Linked DNA regions of Homo sapiens: region 1 is linked to region 2. The links come from fine-mapping of genetic effects on gene expression. Tissue or cell type: sun-exposed skin. Region 2 holds a variant in brackets; the other region holds the start of a gene. All regions are shown on one strand. Distances are between the middles of the regions. Region 1 holds the start of ZIC1 (Zic family zinc finger 1). Region 2 overlaps LOC440982 (a long non-coding RNA gene).

Region 1 (8,334 bases), 99 kb after region 2:
GATTTTAAACGTACCATTCGTTAAAATTGGAAGAGAGCGCACTGTGGCCGGCTGTGTGGTGGACTGCGGAGGAGGAGGGCGATAAGGAGCTTGTGGTCGGGTTGTCTGTGGAGGGAGACACGATGGTGGGAGGCGTGGAGGATTCGTAGCCAGAGCTGGCGGCCGGCGAAGGCTGCGAGCCCTGCGAGGAGGATTCGTGGACCTGCAGGAATAAAGTCGCGTTTTTACGGACATAAAGAGCCAGTGCGGCGGCCGACTAGAGAGGCGAAGGCCGCGAGTGCCCTTCCTCCTGGACCCCTTGGAGCCCCCTGAACACAGGTGAGGCCCGATCAGCGGGACTTTGGGCTTGGTTTCTCTGCACAGGCCTGCAGAAACCGTGCTCCTGGGAAAGTCAGGGTCCCCAAGACTCACAAAAGAAAAATAGGTCTGGGAAGAGGGAGACTGGATATGAGGCCAGAGACTGCACTTTCTTTCCCTGAACTTTGCTTGTCCATGTTTAGGTGAGCCAGAGCTCAGGCCTGGGCGCAGGAGTCCAATTCTTGCGTCTCACTGGCAGCTGCAAGGGCAGCAGTTTCCGCAGCGTCAACCCCCTGCAAAAGCCCTAGCTCTGGGCCAAATTCAGTGGCGGCCTTTGCTCATACTCGCCTCTTTTAACTTTTATTATTAAACCAAAAATTTAAAACGGCCTTGGACACTCCCATCCCCTTTTCCAGGTCCCGCCCTACCTTCTCTGCCCAGTTCCACTGAGTGGAACCTTTGCCTTCCCGCTTCCTCTGGCTCCCGCCACCGCCTGTCTGCCACTCGCCGCCCGACCCCAAGCCGAGAGCCAAGAGAGCTCCTGCCTCAAAGGGGGCGACGAGAGTGCGGCGATTACCTTCATGTGTTTGCGCAGCGAACTGGGATGCGTGTAGGACTTGTCGCACATCTTGCAAAGATAGGGCTTGTCGCTCGTGTGCACGTGCATGTGCTTCTTGCGGTCGCTGCTGTTAGCGAAGCGCCGGTCACAGCCCTCAAACTCGCACTTGAAGGGCTTCTCCCCTGGTGCCAAAGTAGAATGAGAGGGGTCTAATTAGAAAAAAATACCGCGGCCGTTTTTCAAAAACTAAACAAATAGAAAAAAAATAAAACAAAAAGCCAGCAGCCCAGGATTAGCACTTTGCAAGCTTAAAAACCCGGAACGTCAATAAATTCTTACATCTGCAGTGGAATTATAAATATCTTAACTCTATTGTAATCCCTAATACAATTGGATCTACATTTTATTTTTATGTTTAAAAAAATTAATAGTAGGAGGAGTCGGTTTTTAGCATCAGATCTGGAAACTCGTATTACCCAGAGCTACACACGATTTCGGATTGCTTCCACCTGGCTCCTGGTTTCTAGTTTTCACGTTTGCGGCTTATTCTCCTGCCCTATTGCTTTTCTCTCCTCCCCCTGCCCCCTCCCCGACGCTCCGCATCCCCTGGTCGCCTCCTCCAACCCACCCCACTCCCTACATACACTCACATTTTATAGCGTAATCTGGGCCGGAGAGAACTCAACGCCGCAAATTCTTCCCTGACTCGGGCGTTAAACCCGAAGTCTCAAGCATGGTTCTCAGATCTCACCCGGGAAAATCAGAATAGGAAAGGAGACCCAGTTCCCGGCCTCTTGGGGGCAGGGGGCCCAGAATGTTTTGTCTGATGCCAGGCTACAACCCTGAGCTCGTGGGAACTTTTTTTTTTTTTAACTGTTCCGGACCTGTGTCTTGATTATTTTTAAAGGCCAAAGAGGGGAATCTGGTGTTTTGAAAACACCCTCATGGAGTCTAATAGACAACAAGTTCTTCCTTGCCTTCCTCGGACTTTCTCCACCCCTCAAACCCACTCTTAAAACCAGTCACTACTAAAACTGAACTCTTCAAATATGCATAAAGCTCCAAAAGCCTCCTCAATCCCAAATTATTTCCTTTCCCCACTCTGTCTCAATTCTTTCTGTCTCTGTTTTGTTTCTTTCTACGCCCTTAACCCGGCCTCCTCAATTTCCTCAGCTCTTTCCTTTGGCAAAGTCCTCAGTGAAGTGCACGGAGAGAGATGTTGGCAGCAAGCAAGGGTTTAGATTTGTCTGCAGCCTGAGCAGCTGGCGCCTCCGCGGCTGCCGGGAGCCAGCCACTTTCTCCGGCTTCGAAAGCACCAAGGTCTCCGCCAAACCAGGTTTGGCTTCCTGTTCTCCGACCTTTTTTGTTTCTCATTTAAAAAATCTATATACCCAGCTCCTCCTCGTCCGCCCTGTGTGTGTGTGTGTGTTTTCCATAATTTCAAGCCAGAAACTAAAAATCAGCGCACACTTTCCCTGCCTGCCTGCCGGAACCTGACGCCCGGGATCCCACCGAGGCTGCGTTTGTGCGACCTGGCCGCTGACTTTCGGTTTGGGTCCCAGGCCCAAGTGGGAATGGGTAGGGGTCCTACAGCTGTTTCCGTACCTGTGTGCGTCCTTTTGTGGATCTTTAAATTCTCGGAGCGCGCGAAGACCTTGCCACAGCCAGGGAAGGGGCAGGGAAAGGGCTTCTCGCCCGTGTGCACGCGGATGTGGTTAACCAGTTTGTATTTGGCTTTGAAGGGCTTGCCCTCGCGCGGACACTCCTCCCAGAAGCAGATGTGATTACTCTGCTCCGGGCCACCTACGTGCTCCACGGTGACGTGCGTAACTAGCTCGTGCATGGTGCTGAAAGTTTTGTTGCACGACTTTTTGGGGTTGGCCAGCTGCTCGGGCTCGATCCACTTGCAGATGAGCTCTTGCTTGATGGGTTGGCGCATGTAGCGGAAGAAGGCGCCGGCGCCGTGATGCGCGGCCATGTTCACGTTCATGGGCCCGTAGCCGTGCAGCTGCGGCGCAGCATAGTGCTCCGAACGCGGGCTGGTCACCTGGCCGTACTGCTCCGGTCGCGGGTACATGTCCCCCGAGAAGCCGAGCCTCATCTGCCCGTTGACCACGTTAGGCGACGCGTGGCCGGCAGCCTGCTCGTGAAGCCCGGGGAAGAGGAGGTGGCCCGCGGCGTCCGTGTGGCCGTGTGGGCCCCCGAAGCCCCCGGCCGATGCAGCAAAGAGGCTGTGCTGTGCGCTGGCTGCCGCCGCCGCGTCGCCAAAACCCCGGTTGCGGAACAGAAAGTCCCGCGTGGAGTTGAAGGCTGCGCTGGAATAGGAGCCGACGTGGCCCGGGTGATGGTGATGGCCCAGGGCCGCAGCAGCCGCGTAGCCTGGCGCCTGCGACGTGAAGGCCGTCTGGCCGGCCGAAGCCAGCTCGTGCGAACTGGGGTTGAGCTTGAAGGCGCCCATGCCGTCGGCGAACGGGTTGATGCCCAGGCCCACGTCTCGTTCGGCCACGTCGCCCGCGGAGTGGTGGCGGGACGCGCCAAAGGTGGTCACGCCGATCGCTGGGTACTGGGGGCCGGCGTCCAGGAGCATCGTGGCTGCTCGGGGCGAGCCCCGGCCTCCCCCGCCCCCCCCACCCTCGCCAGCCGAGGAGGGAAAATCGGGAGGAGGAGGAGGAACAAGAGGAGGAGGAAGAGGAGGAAGAAGAGGAGGAGGGAGGGGGAGTCGACCCACCTCGCGAAGTCCTAGCCTGCAGGCAATGGCGCGGCGCGCCCGGGCGCTGGCCGGGCCAAACGCAAAGTAGCCGGACGGCTGCGGGCCGCGAGTAACGCAGGCTCCAGCGCCCGCCAGGCAGATTCTGCCGGCCCGGCTCGCACTTTCTCGCCGCTCAGTCTCTGCCGAGAGGGCCGCGCGTCAAGGCTGCCCGGGGAAAGGCATGGAGCATCTCAGCCCCCTAAAAAAAAACTTCCTCCTGGATTTGTAGCATAGAGGAATGTGAGCGCCAGTGCCGCGACTGCTTCGCCCTCTCTCCGCCTCGCGCAGCGCGCCCCTCCTTACTTCTCCACTAGCCCCTCGCCCTTTCTTTTCTCTCTCTCTCCTTTCTCTCACGCTCGCCTCCTCGCTCCTTCACTCTCCGTTTTTCCCTCTCTGCTTTTTGAAAAAAAAAAAAAAAAAAGTGGGTGGGGGGGTGAAGAAAGAAAGAAAAAGCCAAAGAAAAGGCGCAAATCATGCACAATATTGTCTTTTGCGGTTTATCTTCCTGGGGAGAAACTTTCACCTCCTCAGCCGGGCGGTGAGCGCGAGACTGATAGCAGCAATCATTCCTGCAGATAAATGAATTGAAAGGACGACACCGTCCCCCCCTTGATGAATGGGAGCAGGGGGGAGGTGTCACGTGCTGCCGACGCTGGCGCCCATTGGTGCGCCCGCATTCCCCCCGCCCTCAGCCGCCGCGCCAACGGAGGGCGCGCCGAGGCGCCGCGCGCAGCTCATTGGCCCGCCCGCCTCATCAATCCCAGGTATTGTAAAGCGCTTGACATCCCCTTTTGACAAACCAGGGCTGCCAGGAGTAGCAACTTTTTTTTTAGCCAAATTTTTTCCCTCTTCTCACGGAAATTTTTTTTCTTTTTTCTTTTCTTTCTTTCTTTTTTTTTTTTTTTTTTTTTTTTTGCCACGATTACTTTTCCTTCTCACAGTCATATGCATTCCTCTTCCTCCTTTGCCCTCCCGCACCCCGGCGCTGCCCTTCCCGAAACCAACTTTTCGCTGAGCGATTAGAGACTTCAGACGTCTCCGGGTGCAGCAGGCGGGGATGGGGCTAGTAAACACAGCAAAGGCACTTCCAGAATGTCCCGATTCAGCAACTTTCTTTTCTTTCTTCCCCCTTCCCCCCTCCCTTCAAGAGCAGCAAAAGAGGCTTTTGTTATTTGCTCCTTTTGAAGTTTGTTTCCCTCTTGCTTTGTCCCCCTCCTGTTTATAATTTAAGATCTTGGGAGCACACGGGCACTATGCTCTCTTTACAAAAAAATGTAATTTCTCAGTGTAACCGGCAGCCTCTGTATTTCTCGCTTTTATCTAATCAGACTTCCGGCACCACCGCACCCCCCTCCCCGAAAACACACACACACACACACTCACACACACAGGTGGATGAAAGCGCTTAAGTTCCCAGGTTATTGAGGTTTGAATTTTTTAATGGCAAATTTGAAACGTTGTTGCCAGTTTCCTTTACTTTTTCTCTCTCTTGCGTTATTTTTCTGTTTTCTGCCTTTCCGTTGTCTCCTTCGACTGCCCCCGCTAACCCTGTCTCTCCTCACTCCTGTTCCCTACTTGGGCCCCTTTCATTCAGGTAAAACTGTAAATTTCCCAACGCGCTATTGTTCCCTTGGGCTGCCCAAAGCTCCCTAGAGATCCCCGAATACTTTTTCGGTATTTAAATCCCCAATAGATAGGACCAATGTAAATTTTGTGACATTCAAACCTTTTCTAGTTCACAAATCAGTCACCCTTGTCACAGTTATTGAAATTCCGCAACTCGCCACACCAGGACGGTGGAAAAAGCGGGCGCGGTCTTTGTTGCCGACCAGGCTTTTGATCGCCAGAGAAAATTTACTTACCTTCAGATGAGTGAGCAGAAAAAGAAATAACACTCCCTTTGATTTAGTTAGGAAAATGCAGACATTTGGATTCAGTGCAAACATACAACACTCGCTTGTTTTCGCGATGCGGCCCTCGATTAACCTGTCTTTGCCTAGCGCAAAGTCTATTCAACAACTGCGCGTAGTTTCTTTTTGTCCCTTCCACAAAGAGCCATTGACTATATATTAAAATGATTGTTGAAAGGTAGGGGAGTATGGTACTTAAAAGCAGGAAAAAAAAATCCCTGTGACTCAATCAATTAAGCCGAGCAACATTTATGCATTTCAAAAAATGCACGCGGATGCGGGGGGTTGTGGGGACGAAGGTTGCATTTCTCCGCAGCTCTGTTTAAAACCCAGCAGTCCTGGCCGAGGCTTTAGCTGAAGCGTCTGCATATTCATTAGGTCTAATTATTTTCTAGTAAGGAAAACACAAAAAGCCAAGAGTCGGAATCCTTCAATTTACCCTTTGTTTCTAACTTCATTTGGCTTCTTTGCAGCTGAATCAAAGCCCTAAACTCTTTTTCCAAACAAAGAAACCTCAACTCATCCTTTCATAGGCGGCCCGGTTAGGAAACTCACCGTGCCCCAGCGAGAGGAAAATGAAAATGAATATATTTTTTGCCCTGACGCCAGCGCTGACTGCACGGGCTGGAGGAAGGCAGGGTCAGCGTCCGCCGCTCCTCGCCTTTCTGGTTTTCTGGTCTTCTCACCAACTAGATTCTCGCTTGGGGCTGGCCGGCGGGACTGCCCTTTCCATGGGCTGTGCTTGCTCAAAAGTCGGCTTGGGTATCCGGGATGATTTCCCGGTGCCTGAAGGGACCTGGCTGAGCATTTGTGCTTGTGCCGGGAAATATAAATTCGGAAAAAAAATTAATTGTTCTGTTCCCATCAACAAGTCTGAGTCTAGCAGCCCAGCATTTCCCACCAACTTTGAGTGGAATGGAATGAGGAGTGGAGGTAAAGAAAGGGCCGAGGTATCTTTAAAAATTATTGTACACTTGGTTGGAAAAAAAAAAGATATATCGGAGGCACTAAGTCTTTTTACCTACAAGGGGAAGTTGGATCCTGCTTCCCCTGGAGTTTAGAAAACCTCATCTGTATGGAGAAGTTTTCTCTAGAGGCTGTATTCCTCTCACTAGGGAGAACAGATATTGAACCCACCTCGCCCGCCTTTCAGGAAACACACGCGGGCGCACACACACACACACAACAAGGGAGGGGACCTAAGGGGGGAAGGGTAGCTGTTGGGAGGGGGAGAGGGAAAATAATTCTTCAAAAAAGAAAAGTCAGTCTTCTCCTCTCCAGTCCGTGGAAAATCCAACGGGGACGTTGACAAGAGGGTATTTTTAGGAAACACATCCAAATATACAGGGTAAGAGTGAATGTGAGAAAAAAAAAAGTTGTGGGTTGTAGAAGTTATCAAGTGGGATTTGCGGCGCTCTCTGCAGGAAACGCGAACGGCTCCAGTTCAAAGCCACATGCACCAACGTGACATATAAGCCATTAAAATATCATCCTGACGGCTCATTTCTGCTTCATCATACATTCCCTAACTGCTTCCTGAAAGCTGGAAAAGGAGAAGTGAAGGATGACCGCCTCGCTGGAACCACAAAAGAGAGGCTTGGAGGGGTTTGTGGTCCCCTCTCAGCCACCCCGAAATGATGTGCAGAAATGAGGCGATCCTGGCAACAGGTGGAGTGGGGTAAGTGCGTGAGTCCAGGGGGCAGACAGATGAGAACTGTACCTCCAGCGACCGGGTAGCAAGTACCCTCAAGGGGACCACTGGCACCCAAACCCCAGTGGGGGAAGAGGCCCAGCCAGTCTTTCTGCCCCATCTCCTCCTTCATCCTACCCCCCTCCCCCAACCGTGGATAAAGGCCCCACCCCACTGACACTAAGGGGAGGAGGGGGCCCTTCCGCAAAGGGGCAACGCAGAGGATGAGTCCATCCCTTCTTCCCAGGAGGAGGGAAAAGGGGTACAAATGGGGCTCCCACTGGCACAGGAACCAGGAGCAGTTTGTTGCCTGCCTGCCTTCCCTTCTCTCCTTGTGAATTGCCTGGGTGCCCCACCGTGGGCACAAGAATGGAAGTCGTGGCCCAGAGCTTCCCTCGCGAAAAATGAGCAAGGCGGGTGCCGGGAGGGGGCCTTTACAGGAGGTATCTCTGCTCTGCCCCCAAGGGGGTGGCTAGGAGAGTCTCTGCTTCCCCTCTCCAGGGTCAAAGCGCCAAGTTAGCCCAGATGGCAGCAAGACGATGGAACTTCTCCGCCCCAACCTGACGGCAGATGCCGCCTGAGTCCACCTCAGGGCGGCTCCTTGCCCTCCCTCACCCTGGTCCTGCCTCAGGAAGCTGACTGCTGGGATCTGCTCTCTGCGCGCGGCCAGCAGTGGGTTCGGGACTTGGCTTTCTTTATCTCCAATGCGAACAAGAGCAGCAACTAGCTCTCTGGGGAGCAGGCCGCAGCTCCTAGGATTCTGGCCCCTAGCCTAGACCCAGGGGCATTGGAAATTAGGGGCCAATGAGGAGGGAATAGAGCTGAGCTGTGAAAGAAAGCTAGGACTGGCTCAAAGGTTGGATCTGAAAGTTGGGGTTGATGAATGGCCCATGTCAAAGTCTTAGGAAAGCGGAGGGGCTTTTGGAGGGTTGCACTTCGGCCGTCACCGTCTTCAGGAAACTCCCTTTGGATTCCAAGGTCATGTTTTCCCCGCTTTCCGACAGTATTGTCCTCGCAGCGACCCACACCACTGCATGCTGCTCTTTTTTCTCCTGTCTCAGCCGCCTGCAGGTTGGGGGAGGGGTGATTCAAAGGGAGGGCTAAATGCCCAGCCTGATCTACTGATACA
Region 2 (8,334 bases):
TTTTTACTCTTGATTGCACCAGTAAACAAGCAGCTTATTTTCAGACAATGTTTTCTAACCTATCAGAAACTGCCTCATTCCTAGTTTTGTAACAGTCTCAAATATTTTTTAAATAAAAAGAAACTATTGAGAGAGAGAGAGAGAAAGAGACAGAGAGAGAGAGATAAGTGTAAAATGTATAGCCCAACAGAATGTCAAAATATAAATAGATGGGGGATTGTATGCCATCCCCTTCAATTTAGCTTATAGTTTTAAACAACGTATTTGGCAACTACTTGTTTTATTTAAAAAAATAGTGTTTGTTGATACCTGAAAGATTATACCAACCAGGAGAAATTCTAAATCACGGTTTTAATAATTTTCTTCTTAAACATTTTAAGGCAAAAGTGAAAGTTTTGCTAATATCCTTTTAAATAGAAATGACAATCAGTCAGGGCACAAGGATAAAAAAGTAAGTCAGCTAGGTCAGCTAATAGGAGATTAGAAAGTGATCCCATACTTCTAGACTGAGACTCAGAAAAATGATTTTAAAAACCCACTACACAATTGTTATTCTTCCTGAAATTATTTGTAGTTTTATTGTATAATCACATGAACATACATAATACAATGCCCTTGAATTTTCTATACTCATCTTTGAGTGCCAAAGGGAGAAAATATTATAGGAAAGGATTAGATCAATAATTCTCAATGCAGGGTGGTTTTGCCCCCATACTGGTGAGGGTACAGGCTAGGGATGTGGCTAAACACTACAGTGCACAGGACAGTCCTTCACAACAAAGAATTATCTGGTCCAAAATGACAGTAGCATCAATGTTGAAAAACAAAAACAACAAAGAACAAAAACATAATTCTCAACTGAGATTTTCTTTTTCTATTGTTTCCCTACTTCCTGGGACACGATGAATAGAACACATGATAATAATTATCACTTACTACAGACTCAATTTTATTGATGTCTCTAAAATTCTGTCTCTAAAATTGTATTTCAAAGTTCCAAGATAGTTCTTGTGGAAATTGACTCATTTAGAGTGTCTTCTCTTTGTCTTCATGCTTTAAATCTCAGATGCCCATAAAAAAAGATGATTTTATGTCCTTTGCAGGGACATGGGTAAAGTTGGAAACCATCATTCTCGGCAAACTAACACAAGAACAGAAAACCAAACACTGCATGTTCTCACTCATAAGTGGAAGTTGAACAATGAGAACACATGGACACAGGGAGGGGAACATCACACACCAGGGCCTGTCCAGGGGTGGGAGACAGGGGGAGGGATAGCATTAGGAGAAATACCTAATATAGATGACAGGTTAATGAGTGCAGCAAATCACCATGGCACGTGTATACCTATGTAACAAACCTGCATGTTCTGCACATGTACCCCAGAGCTTAAAGTATAATAAAGTTTTTTTAAAAATCCCAGATGCCACTTTGGTCTAGTTCTCCATTATCAAGATCAGATATTCTCAGAGGAAAACACAACATTTTTCTGGACCTAACATATGGGATAACCACACTTTTAAAATGCTAGAAGGAAGAAAGAGAAAAGCCAGGAGCCACAATCTCTTATCATTAGAAATTGCATTGTAAGGTAGCTATACAAGAATGCCCCCAATAGAATTGATCAAACAAGGTGAATATGTGGTGGAAAATTCTAAACTCATATGCCATCTTAGAATTTGTATGAATTTTGTTTTCCCTAATTTAAAAAATGAAGACAAGAAAACATAGTGATCTTCCAACCCAGTACTTTCCAAAATATATTCCTAACAATAACGTCTTAAGAAAATGATTTGATGATCAAATATTAGAAAACACAGCGAACATATTGCCAACATCCTTAAAGATTCTCAATACACCTTGGTATAGTAAAGATTCTGAGAAATGCTGCAATGAAAGCATCATTTTAGAGTTTTGATTAATCTTGTGTTTCTCCAACTTGACCCAAGAAATACTTTATTGTGCTTGATTTTGTTATCTTCATTGCAGCTGCTAACATCTGGGAAGTACTATATCAGAAAACCCAGTTATTCTAATGTACAATAGAACTATTCTTTTTCATCCCATCTTAAAGAGTATATGAGCTTGCATATTTTACATATATCATCAAACACAATTTTTTTACTTAAGATAATAAAGAATGTCCCTGAATTCTCAGATTCCAACTAGCTAGTGCTACATGCACAAGTTATTGAAGATCTTAGGGAAATTAACTCCATCAGCTAATGCAAAATACTCTCCAATTAAAAACATTTCCAGTCAAAGTCAAATTCTCTAAAGCCATCACGTTTTGTTTTCATTTAAGACTGTCCAAGGAACACATAAATCTAAATGATCAGAATTACTTCACTCAGTTAATACTCCTGTAATTTAAATGATTTTATTATGCATACATGCAGAACTTATAAATTATACATTCAGAACTTATAAATCATACATTTATAAACAATTATTCTCCTTTTCATTTTATTTTTAAAATTAATCTCATTTATCATTTTTCAGTCTATAATAAATATGTCCATTTTATCTGCTTCTGAGTGAAAACAAGAGTTGGTGGATTAGTAGTAACAAAAAACACGAAAATGTATCAAGAATTGCCCCACCTGTTCTATCTAGTAGCTCCCACCCCACCACCCTGAACCAGTGGAAATAACTGTGTCACCCTGAATGGCAGACACAATTACTATTTCCGTTCTTGAGTCAGGATTCAAGCCAATAACATGTTTTAACTGACATGAAAACTTTAAAGGAATAAGCATTTTACACATAGCAAATATTTAACAATTTTATTTTTTATTTTTTATTTTTATTTTTTTTGCTTCTCACAGAAAAGTTTGTAAGGTAGGTACTACTCCTCTCATTATATATGTGAATAAATGGAGGAAGATAAGTAACTTGCCCAAAATCACAAAGCCAGAAGATGAATCCCAAAAGAACATTAATCCAGGGCTGTTTCTTTCTGCTAAATGATGCTATTGCGTCCTTTCAGGGCTTCTGGGAAACTCTTCAGACTTGCTGACAGCACTTTTCTAGGACAGCTGAGACGCATTCGCTAATCTCTGAGCTGCTTGTCCTTTGTGGTTTACTTTGGCCAAGACATAGAAAAGACAGTTGAGAATAACAGTTATTTGCATGCCTGGAAATACTTAGCAAGTAAAAATGATTTCTACAAATAATGTATTTACTATGTAGAAAAGGATCTTTCTGCTTTTCTAGCTCATTTTCCTGCATAAATTAATTTTGTCTTACCTTTGTTCAGTGTTCACTGCCATTTAGCAATGTGTCATTTCTATGAATTACAGCGATAATACCATAATAATAATAAAGAAAAAGAGGAAGATGAGGAAATAGATATAAAAATGATAAATATTTTTCATTGAAAAGTTATCTCAGATTTTATATTAAAACAGTATAGCAATAATTGCCTCTTTATTTGCTGGAAGTTGTATTTTTAATAATTTGCTTCCTACATCTGGCATAGAATTTACCAGAGAAAGTATGTGCAATAAAAAGAGATAAGTAAAATTTTTGTTTGTTTTTAACCTTTTGTGTAAGCAGGGTTACAAAATGCCAAGTGAAATCTGAAATTTTATTTTTCTCATCTAATCTAATTTCCTACAGAAAATTATCCTAGGAAAATATAATATATATTGGCTTACTTCTTAAGCCGCCTCCTCCTTTAAGTAATATTTTTGTGCCCTTGAATATTTTATCTAATTATAAAACCAAGAAAATGAGATGTTTTTGCACAAAACTTAATAAAAATTGACTCAAGACACAACATTTTCCTGTCTCCATACAAACTGGTGATGAATATTTTAAATTCTAGCAACCACATGTATTTTAAAATAATTTTCTTAACTTCTTACTCTGTTTTTTTTTAGAGACAGGATCTCGCTCTGTCTTCTGGACTGGAGTGCAGTGGCATAATCATGGCTCACTGTAGCTGCAAACTCCTGGGCTAAAGTGATCCTCTCTGGTAGCAAGGACTGCAGGTGTGTGCCACAATACCCAGCTAATTTTTAAATTTTTTGTAGAGACAAAGTCTCTCTGTGTTGCCCTGGCTGGTCTTGAAATCCTGGCCTCAAGCAATCCTCCTCCTTCAGCCGCCCAAAGTACCAGGATTACAGGCTTGAGCCACTATGCCCAGCCTCCTTAGGTATATATTTATCACAACTGTTCCATAAATTATTTGTATAATTGATAATACAAGAAAATCCCTAGTAGTTACTCAGTTGTGGCCAAATTATCTGCTGAGGCTTAGAATAACAGTATAATAGCAATAACAACAATACTAACAGATAACATTTAGTTAATGTTTATTTTGTGCTAGGCTGTGTTAATTTAATTTAATCTTCATGGTAATTCCATTGAATGTAAGTATTATTATTATTTTCATCATTATATTCTTATTACCGTAAATGAGAAAATTGATGCCCTGATTGTGCAGCCAGCAGTGGTGGAATGAGGAATTGTACCCAAACAATCTCAACCTCAGAACTACAGCTTTTAACCAGTATGTTATACTACACCCAGGAAGGCCTTAACTTTGATATTTCCCTTATTTTTATTTCTCTGTTTGTGCTGTCAGAGTAGATGGGTTTGCCAGGAAAGTTTCAGAACTCACCAGACCTGCTGGAAGAACTTCAGACTTAGCGATGCCTTGAGATTGTGCCATATCAAACCTAGCTCCTGAGAGTCTTTCCAGCTTAAAGTCACATCCTAGAGCTTCCCAGGAGCTGTCATACAGAGGGAGGAAACCATCAGTCAGTCACCTGAACATCTGTAACACCAAACAGCCATTTCAAGAGGTAGAGCTTTGCCCAGTGCATTTTAGGCCCTCTCTTGGGAACATAAGGTCACCCCGCTGGTTCAGAAAGTTGAAAACAAGCTCTTATTAAGTGATGGATGTG[G/T]CATCATTGCACAAGATGTTCCCTGAGTAATGTTTTCCTGTTCCTGGAACTGAAAAGGAAATTAACTAAGAGAAAAGAAGTAAATTCTGGGACTAAGGCTAGCCAGTGGTCTGTATATTTACTATATTCATGCAGAATAGCAAAAATTTCAGGTGAATTGAAGATATCCTAGAGCCATAAACTGAAAACCTCTTACAGTGACTGTAATAAGTGAGCGTAAGAAAAAACGGAAGGGTAAAGAAGAGTGAGAATTGGGGGGAGGGAGGGAAGAAGGGAGGGAAGGAAAGAAGGGAGGGAGGGAAGGAAGGAAGGAAGGAAGGAAGGAGGGAAGGAAGGAAGAAAGGAAGGGAGGGAGGGAGGGAGGGAGGGAGGGAAGGAAATAGCCAACTGAACATTTTTGAAAATTAAAATTCCATAACACCATTATGGGCTCAATTTGTATTTTGCTAATTCTCACATGAGTTGAAAATTTTGTCCAGTTCTGAAATACTCCTGGGAGGCATAGTATGTAAAGGTGACCAATGTGATGTGGTACACTATCAGATAATATATATGATCAGTTTTTTTGAGATATTTTAATGATTGATATGAATCTATTTTAATGCATTTATAGAAGCTTTGTAAATCTAATTTAGACATATGTTAACTAAATTTTTACTTTTATATGTTCCCACTTTTAGAAAACTGTATTTTTCTTAGAATTGAATAAATTTTTTGTGGGTGTGTGTGTTTTCTATATTCAGTCTCTCTCCCATTATAAATTGTACTTGCTATATATTTGTGCATTGACTCACATTCAATACACAAGAAGTTGTATTGCATATTTCTGAAATATATGTACAATCACGTGTCACTTAACTACAGATATATATTCTAAAAAATGTGTCATTAGGCAATTTCCTCCTGGTACAAACATAGTATAGCATATACTCATATAAATGTAGCTGGTGTAGCTTACACACCTAGGCTATTTAGTATAGCCTATTGCTCCTAGGCAACAAACCTGTACAGCATGTTACTGTACTGGATACCACAGGTAATTGCAACCCAAAGGTAAGTATCTGTGTATCTAAACATAGAAAAGATACAGTAAAAATACAGCACTAAAATCTTATGGGACCACTGTCATACATGCAGTCCATAGTTGGCCAAAACATATCTTGAAGCACATGACTGTGATGGCTTATATGTTAAATTATATTTGTAAATAAAATAGAAGAGCGTATTACTTAATAAAATTCAATCCTTGTATATTTATAAAGTGAAAATGCCCCCTTTATGTGTCCTGTTACATAATAGATATAAAAAATCATTTGTGTAATTAATTAATATAGTATAAGTTCATCCTATATTATGTTCAACTGACAGAAAATAACTAGCTGTTGTCTAAGTTGAACAACCCCTCTGATATTTAAAATTACTGAATCTTCTCTTCGCTTTCCATGAACAAAAAATCAAGATGCCTATTATGACAGATATAGACAGTTTGTAGATAAGAATTTTAATTTTTAAGAGAAAATATAGGTATCATTTCAAGGAATTATTGATATATAATTTCACATTTTAAATCCTCAACAAATATTAAATGTTACTTTTGAATGCTAATTATTGTTTCGAAAGTTAAATATCAAACATCTAAGAAAACTTACTAAATGATCTAGAACAATGAGAGGTAGTGGGAGAAAACAGGTGAAGGGCAGGCAGACGCAAGTTCACAAGGGGCCTCCTAGACCACAGTTAGGGCTATGGAGCTTCAGTCTAAGTACAGGAAGGCCATTGAATGCTTTTTGATGCTTAAGTCACATTTATTGGGGTATAATGTACCTCATGTACATAATTTGGGGCAGAAGCTCCTCACAGCCTACAATACATGTGCAAAATTCTTGGAGTTAAAGGGAGGCACTTTATGAAAATGTGTTTACTTTCCTATTTTTATTTCTAGGGGGATACAACGCATTCTATAGGATTGGAACTCTCTTTATACATATATGTGTGTTTGTGTTTGTGTGTGTGTGAGAGAGAGAGAGTGTGTGTGTGTATATGTGTGTGACAGAGACAGATACATACAAATATGTCACATCATATATGAATGTATTAAAATTCACTCTTTGCATGTAAAACTGATGATTATAGATAAATGTATAAAGATGTGCAACTGTCACAATCAAGAAATAGATCATTTACCTCACACCAAAAAGTTCTCTTGCATCCACCACCCCCTAGCAACTACTGGTCTGATTTTGTCCCTATAGTTTTTCCAAAATGTCATGTAAATGGAATAAATGGAATCTTGTAGGTTTTGTGTCTTGCTTCTCTTAATTAGCATAATGCCTTTCAGACTCACCGATGTTCTGGTATGTAACAGCTCATGATTGCTGAAAGAATTCTATTGTACGAATTATTATAATTTGTTTATTCATTCACTAGTTGATGAACATTTGTATTATTTTCAGTTTGGGCAATTATAAATAAAGCCTTGAAAGCCTTTTAAAGAAGGAGAGACATAATTTGGCTTACACTATAAAAAAATACTGGCTCCTGTACGGAGAATGAATGTCAGGGCATTTAAAGTGGGAGGCTAGAGGCAGGGAAGTCAGCATGCAGTCCAAGTGACAGAAGATGGTAGCTGGTACAAGCAGAGATGTAGAGAAATCAATAGAATTAAAACGGTTATTTTAAAAGCAAAATGTAGAGCACCTGAAATAATATAGAAGTAGGAAAAATCACAGATGCCTGGAGCAACTAGATTATTGTTCACCTCTTCACTGCCGGTTATCTCTCCCCATATCAATTCAGTATGAACACTCCATGGGTATCAGTTAGTGAAATTAAATTTGGGACATCAAAAATTTGAAAACATAGAGTTTTCTATGAAATCTACAATATATCATTCAGTCCCATAAAAACAAATCTTTCATGACAGACAGGTAACTTCTAGAGCCTTATAGTAAGTCTCTACAATACTATCTTTCAACAAAATACGATTTAATTTCCCTTCAGATTTACACTTGGAACACTAAGATTAGATCAGATAATTTGGGGAATTTAAAATAATGTCACATTCACATTTTGGTCTATATATGAATTTATCAAAAATATTAGAACTGTGAGAGACCTCTTTCACTGGGATACCTGAAGCAGCACATAATTCTGAGAGAGATTACTTCAGGGGTGGCCTTAATTCCATAGAATGAACTAAGCGTTCTCCCAGAAAAAATAAGAGAAACAGAATAAGCACATGTTCATAAAGCTCCTCTCTTTAACTCTGAGAATTTTAGACTTGTACCATACAATATATAAGGAGCTTCTACTAAAAATCATCTTCTACTCTTAATTAATAGAAATTGTGGACTAAATACTTTTTTACTCTGTACTCAGTAAATTGCTGTGTAACTACTGAAGTTGAACCTATTACATAAA

What was found.
Region 1: it holds the start of ZIC1, and the variant in region 2 is fine-mapped to the expression of ZIC1 in sun-exposed skin (GTEx, PIP above 0.99).

Annotation. Positions count from the first base shown.
Region 1 is chr3:147,405,222-147,413,555 of GRCh38, reverse strand. It overlaps ZIC1 (Zic family zinc finger 1), which reads right to left and starts at 4,191. Exons shown (of 3, transcript NM_003412.4): 1 at 2,462-4,191; 2 at 875-1,038; 3 at 1-202. The coding sequence starts at 3,443. The coding sequence ends at 5. ZIC4 (Zic family zinc finger 4) reads left to right here and starts at 7,013. Exons shown (of 5, transcript NM_032153.6): 1 at 7,013-7,193. RefSeq lists enhancers at 1-538, 539-1,378, 4,004-4,584, 5,007-6,197.
Region 2 is chr3:147,504,347-147,512,680 of GRCh38, reverse strand. LOC440982 (a long non-coding RNA gene) reads right to left here. Exons shown (of 3, transcript NR_121655.1): 2 at 4,629-4,740; 3 at 2,771-3,086. Among named protein-coding and RNA genes, the nearest start is that of ZIC1, 99 kb to the right of the region's middle. The variant G/T (reference allele first, on the strand shown) is at 4,915.